2 linked regions of the Homo sapiens genome follow. Changing the gene in region 2 together with the main gene of any one other region gives a genetic interaction. Each region holds a gene or a part of one and is shown on either strand. Other genes may lie near its edges.

Region 1 (3,500 bases), on a different chromosome or scaffold from region 2:
TATGCTCCAGGATGCACTAACTTCCTTTTTCTGTGGGTAATCTGGGTAGTACTTGTGATGCTGGTAAAGATGATGATGATGATACCAGAAACTAACATTTATTGCACACTTAATAAATGTGTGCTAGACACTGTGCAATATATTTATATCCTTATAACAACAAGGTGTTGGCAATAACATCATTCCCTATTTTACAGATAAAGAAAGTGAGACCCAAAGATATAAAATCATTTGCCCAAGATCAGCTAGTATGGGGGCAGAACTAGAATTCAAACTAAAGAAGCTTTTAATCATCTACACTGTATGCTATATGGAGATCTATTTTCTAAAAGCTCCCATGTGAATATGATATATAGCTGGGTTTCAGAACTACTGCCAATTGTAGTTCTAAAAGTGCAAGTAAAACTATCTTTTTACATAATGTCTACTATTGGATGTTTAAAAATTTTTATTTGCTTTTGAGACAGGGTCTCATTCCGTAGCCCAGGCTGGAATGCAGTGACACGATCTCAGCTCACTCAACCTCCACCTCCTAGGCTCAAGCAATCCTCCCACCTCAGCCTCCCAAGTGGCCAGGACCACACGCATGCACCACCAAGCTCGGCTAATATTTATTTATTTATTTTATTTTTTATTTTTTCAGATGGAATTTTGCTGTTGTTGCCCAGACTGGAGAACAATGGCACGATCTCAGCTCACTGCAACCTCTGCCTCCCGGATTCAAGCAATTCTCCTGCCTCAGCCTCCCAAGTAGCTGGGATTACAGGCGTGCGCCAGCCACCACACCCAGCTAATTTTGTATTTTTAGTAGAGATGGGTTTCACCATGTTGGCCAGGCTGGTCTTGAACTCCTGACCTCAAGTGATCCACCAGCCACGGCCTCCCAAAGTGCTGGGATTACAGGCGTAAGCCAACATGCCCGGCCACTTTTTTTTTTTTTTTAATAGGGATATAAATCTTTTTCTTCACTAGACCCTGCTTCTAGGTGGAAGGGTCAGACTCCAGCAGGCCAGACACGGGAGCACCAAGGTAGGAAGGAGGAGGATACCTCATAGCCACCAGTCAACAGAATGTATTTAATAGTGACAGTACTGAAACCAGATTCTAACACATCCTAGAATAAATCACTGGAAGTATCCCCATTGGATTTTTGTTAAAAGACAAGAAAAAGCATCTAAAGAGAAGCAACCTATTATTAATGGGACATTAATCAAAGCACTAACTTGATCTTTTAGTAGCATTATCCCACCACTGGACTGGATAGTACAAATCTCTCGATGTTTGTTCATGGCAATCACCAGCAAGCCATCCATCACACGTTCTTCTCGTTCATTGGGATCCACCAATAAATATGTTCTGAAATGAATGTTAAATGGACCTGAACAAATCTGAGACCGAATGCTTACCATTTCTTGGGTAATGAATTTTTAAAAGATGGCATCAATAAAGTCAACAGAGAATAAAGGTCTGAGCCTACGGATTTGGGTCACTGAAATGGGGAAAGAGACAAGAAAATTATTGTGTTTATGAACACAAATGAATGCTAAGTGGGTATCTCTAGTTATTACAATGAAATCACATTAAGTTCAGATTGGATTTACTTAAATGATATATAATCTAAACCTAATGCTATCTCTTTGATTAAATGACTTCTGGCTCATTAATAAAAACTTAGATAATGTTAAATTGGTTAACCCTAAAGTTGCCCTAATGTCCTGTACTCCAAAGTTCTACTGCGTTCTGCTAATGGCTCATGAAAAAAATACTGTCTATTTCTGCACTGTCCGGTACATTTGCCAATAGTCACCTGTGGTTACTGAGCCCTTGAAATGTAATCAGAGTATGTAAAATATTGGATTTCAGAGACTTAGTGGAAACAAAAGAATGTAGACTATCTCATGAGTAATTATTAAAATACTGATTATTTCATTAATCATTTTATTTCATTAACGTGAAAATATATTAATTAAAAATATATAAAAATTAATTTTACCTTTTTAATGTGACTACTGGAAAATATTAAATTACACATATGAGGCCAGGCATGGTGGCTCATGCTTGTAATCCCAGCACTTTGGGAGGTCAGGACTGCAAGATCACTTGAGCTCATGAGTTTGGGACCAGCCTGGGCAACAAAGTGAGACCCTGTCTCTACAAAAAAAATTTTTTTAAATTAGCTGGGTATGCCACACACCTATAGTCCCAGCTACTTGGAAGGCTGAGGTGGGAGGATCACTTGAGCTCAGAAGTAGGCTGCAGTGAGCTATGATCACACCACTGCACTCCAGCCTGGGTGAGAGTGAGACCCTGTCACAAAAAAATAAAAAAAAAATTTAAAAAGTAACAAATGCTGCGCATGGTGGCTCAAGCCTATAATCCTAGCACTTTGGGAGGTGGAGATAGGCGGATCACTTGAGCCCAGGAGCTTCAGACCATCCTGGGCAACGTAGTGAAATCCCATCTCTACAAAAAATAAAGAAATTAGCTGGGCATGGTGTGCACCTGTGGTCCCAGCTACTCAGGAGGCTGAGGCAGGAGAATCACTTGAGCCTGAGAGGTTGAGGCTGCAATAAAACATGATCACGCCACTGCACTCAAGCCTGGGTGACAGAGGGAGACCTTGTCTTAAAAAAAAAAAAGAAAAGAAAAGAAAAAGAAACAGCCAGGCATGGTGGCTCATCCCCGTAATCCAGCATTTTGGGAGGCTGAGGTAGCTAGATCACTTTTGAACTCAGGAGTTCCAGACCAGCCTGGGCAATATGGCAAAACCTCTTTTTTACAAAAAAAATACAAAAATTAGCTAGGCATGGTGGTGCATGCCTGTAGTCTCAACTACTCGGAAGGCTGAGGCTGAAGAATTCATTGAGCCCAGAAAGCAGAGGTTGTAATGAGCAAAAATCACGCTGCTGAAATCCAAATTGGGCAACAAAGCCAGACCTCATCTCAAAAAAAAGAAGAAAATAAGAAAATTATATATATGGTTCACATTTTATTTCTACTGGACAATGCTGGCCCATTTTCCTCTGATAAAACTCTACACTTACAATCACTAAAACTTGTAAGTGTTTCTCTAGTCCTTGTGCACAACACTGTGTGAAATATTTTTATCTTCCCTTGTTTCTAAAGGAATTTAAGGCTCAAGTTTTCATTTGAAAGCACCATTAAATGGACCTGAAAAACTCCAAGTTTTCTGCCACAGGAGGATTTAGCAGTTAAGTAATGAAAACGCTGGAAAACTTAAGAACATTAGATTTTTTTCCTCCAGTCTGTGAACCATCCCCCCTTGTAACCGACTCCTAGAACTACTCCATCTAATATGTTCCAAAGTCCCCTATCTTCCAATAACCCACAGTAATTCTCACCCCACTGTCCCAAATTAGAGCCTAGCATATAATTCTCTTAACCACTGTACAGCCTTAGGAAACATAAAACACTACCATGCCATAGTAAATTCCTAAGTTTATAAGTATCCCATGAAAAGAAAAATGTTGGGAAGTATC
Region 2 (3,500 bases):
TTCTAGTCGGGTGGGATGAGAGACGGAGAAAAGAAATAAGACACAGAGACAAAGTATAAAGAAACAACGGTGGGTCCAGGGGACTGGTGCTCAGCACACCAAGGACCTGCACCGGCACCGGCCTCTGAGTTCCCTCAGTTTTTATTGATTATTATTTTTCATTATTTCAGCAAAAAGGAATGTAGTAGGACAGCAGGGTGATAATAAGGAGAAGGTCAACAAATTACATGTGAGCAAAAGAATGTATATCACGATTAAGTTCAAGGGAAAGTACTATGCCTGGACGTGCACGTAGGCCAGACTTATGTTTCTCTCCACCCAAACATCTCAGTGGAGTAAAGACTACAAGGCAGTATCACTGTAAACATGTCTCGCCTCCCGCCACAGGGCAGCTTTTCTCCCATCTCAGAGTTGAACAAATGTACAATCGGGTTTTAAGCCGAGACATTCAGTTCCCAGGGGCAAGCAGGAGATAGTGGCCTTCCTCCATCTCACCTGCAAGAGGCTTTCCTCTTTTACTAATCCACCTCAGCACAGACCCTTTACAGGTGTCGGGCTGGGAGACAGTCAGGTCTTTCTCATCCCACGAGGCCATATTTCAGACTATCACATGGAGAGAAACCTTGGACAATACCCCGCTTTCAAGGGCAGAGGTCCCTGCGGCTTTCCACAGTGCATTGTGCCCCTGGTTTATTGAGACTAGAGAATGGCAATGACCTTTACCAGATGTACTGCTTGTAAGTATTTTGTTAACAAGGCACGTCCTACACAGCCCTAGGTCCCTTAAACCTTGATTTTATACAACACATGTTTTTGTGAGCTCCAAGTTGGGTCAAAGTGGCTGGGTCAAAGTGGCTGGGACAAAGCTACAAATCAACAACATCTCAGCAAAGCAACTGTTTAAAGTACAGGTCTTTTTCAAAATGGAGTCTCTTATGTCTTTCCTTCCTACATAGACACAGTGACAGTCTGATCTTTCTTTCTTTTCCCTACAACTTATTATTATTTTTGAGACAGAGTCTTGCTCTGTCACTGGCCTGGAGTGCAGTGGCCCGATCTCGGCTCACTGCAACCTCCACCTCCGAGGTTCAAGCAATTCTCGTCTCAGCCTCCCAAGTAGCTGGGATTACAGGCACCTGCCACCACATCTGGCTAATTTTTTGTGTTTTTGTAGAGACAGGGTTTCACTATGTTGGCCAGGCTGGTCTTGAACTCCTGGCCTCTTGATCCACCCGTCTCGGCCTCCCAAAGTGCTGGGATTACAGGCGTGGGCCACACCGCGCCTGGCTTAAATGATTTTTTAAAACTAAGTGGCTTAATATTCTGCAATTTTAATCTGAGAGGGGTGGAACAGAAAGCCCCATACCTCATCAGAACCTGGGAGTTGATGAGAAACCATTTGATGACAACCTCCTAGGGGAGATGGGGAGGGAAGTGGGAGATGGCCTCATAGCAGCTTCTGGCAGACCTTCCACCCTCGTGTTCCAGGAGGATTAAACAAGCCTTTCAGCCACAATTCGGTAAGGTGTGGCTCAAGCCATTGTCTCCTTGGATATATTCAAGGCTCTCAGGGAACACTGTTGATAGTGGTATTGGTATTATACTGAAACTTTGTGTTGAGAACCAGGGTTTTGAGAACCAGGGTTTTCACTATGGCAAAAGGAAGATACAAGTAAGGAATGGAGGCATTTGAATAGGGAGGTGACAGTACAAATTACTGATTTAAGGCCAGGCATAGTGGCTGATGCCTGTAATCCCAGTTCTTTGGGAGGCCAAGGCAGGAGAATTGCTTGAGCCCAGGAGTTCGAGACCAGCATGGGTGACATGGCAAAACCCTGTTTCTACAAAAAACACAAAAATTAGCCAGGCATAGTGGTGCTGTCCTGTAGTCCTACCTACTCAGGAAGCTAAGGCAGGAGGATCTCTTGAGCCTGGGAGCCTCTTGAGCAGAGGTTGCAGCGAGCTGAGGTTGTGCCACTGCACTCCAGCCTAGGCAACAGAGCGAGCCCGTCTCAAAAAAAAGACAAAGAAATTTAGGACAGTATGCAAGATTTGGCCTGGATTCTTCTGAGGATGTGAAGTAATGGAAACAGTAAGACTGTTCCAGACTAGGGGAAGACTAGAGACCTAATAGCTGGATTCCATGTGATCTTTTGTTGGACTTTGGGATTGGAGGTGAGAGTAGAGAAGGCATAATGCACGTTTTTGAGACGAGGGAAATGTGAATATAGCCTGTATGCCTACACTCAAGTCTGAAGACATGTAAACCATGTCTATACTAACCAGCCAAATATTTGAACACTAAAAGGAAGAATTTTCTTAATGTGGTAATGGTATCATGGTTGTATAGAATGTTCCTCCTCTTGGGAGATGTGTGTTGAAAATAGGGTTTGACGTCTAAACCTATTTTGTTTTGGCAAAAAGGACGTGTGTCTGTACAAAAGAAGTGGAGCCAGTATGGCAAAATGTTTACAAGGACTCTGGGTGAGAGGTACATAGGTGCTTACTATACTGTTTTGTTTCTGAATTTGGAATTTCTCAAAATTAAAAAAATATCTACTGAGGAGCTTTTCGTTTTAACTGGTGGGGAATGGGTTCTGGGTGGTTTTGCCCCTTTTCTTTTTAGATTCAAGAAATCCATGGTGAAAGGTTTGGATTCCTATGAAGAAAAGGAGGATAAAGTGATCAAGGAGGTAAGTTAAAGTAGCAGTCCCTCACCCTTTTTGCACCAGGGGCTGGTTTCGTGGAAGACGGTTTTTCCACAGATGGACCCAGGCAGGGGATGGTTTCAGAATGAGACTGCTCCACCTCAGATCATCAGGCACTAGATTCTCATAAGGAGCACGCAACCTAGATACCTTGCATGCCCAGTTCACAATAGTGTTTGTGCTCCTATGAGAATGTAACACCACCACTGATCTGACAGGAGCTCAGGCGGCAGTGCTGTTGCAGCCTGCTTCCTGACAGGCCACAGACCAGTACTGGTCCACGCCTGGGGGTGGAGGGCCCAAGTTAAAGGAAAGGCCTCTGAAGAAACTGGCCCCCATGATCCTGTACCTGTCTAAGCAGCCTCTCTCCCACAGATGGCAGCTCAGATCCGTGAGGTGGAGCAGAGCCGACAGGAGGTGGTTCGGTCTGTCTTAGAGGTTGGTTTCCCTCGGAGGATCCAGACCAGTATCCAAATCCACTGATCCCTGGCATTCCCAGGTCCAGCATTTCATGGACTAGTGCTTCTTCTTCTTCTTTTTTTTTTGGAGACAGAGTTTCGCTGTGTCACCCAGGCTGGAGTGCAGTGGCACGATCTCGGCTCACTGCAACCTCCACCTCCCAGGTTCAGGTTCAAGCGATTCTCCTGCCTCAGGCTCCCGAGTAGCTGGGATTACAGGTGCCGCCACCACGCCTGGCTAATTTTTATATTTTTAATAGAGGTGGTGTTTCACCATGTTGGCCAGGCTGGTCTTGAACTCCTGACCTCAGGTGATCCACCCGCCTCAGCCTGC

What was found. Genes that interact genetically often act in the same process or in processes that back each other up.
Region 1: changes in CENATAC (region 2) and EXOSC9 together harm fitness less than expected from each alone (positive genetic interaction), as found in Homo sapiens cells (one large-scale study listed by BioGRID).

The regions. Positions count from the first base shown.
Region 1 is NC_000004.12:121,807,823-121,811,322, reverse strand, and holds part of EXOSC9 (exosome complex component RRP45), read right to left. Parts: intron 1,357-3,500; coding exon 1,224-1,356; intron 1-1,223. UniProt on the Homo sapiens protein: Non-catalytic component of the RNA exosome complex which has 3'->5' exoribonuclease activity and participates in a multitude of cellular RNA processing and degradation events.
Region 2 is NC_000011.10:119,008,138-119,011,637, forward strand, and holds part of CENATAC (centrosomal AT-AC splicing factor), read left to right. Parts: intron 1-2,626; coding exon 2,627-2,693; intron 2,694-3,083; coding exon 3,084-3,146; exon of another isoform or gene 3,147-3,174; intron 3,175-3,500. UniProt on the Homo sapiens protein: Component of the minor spliceosome that promotes splicing of a specific, rare minor intron subtype. Negative regulator of centrosome duplication.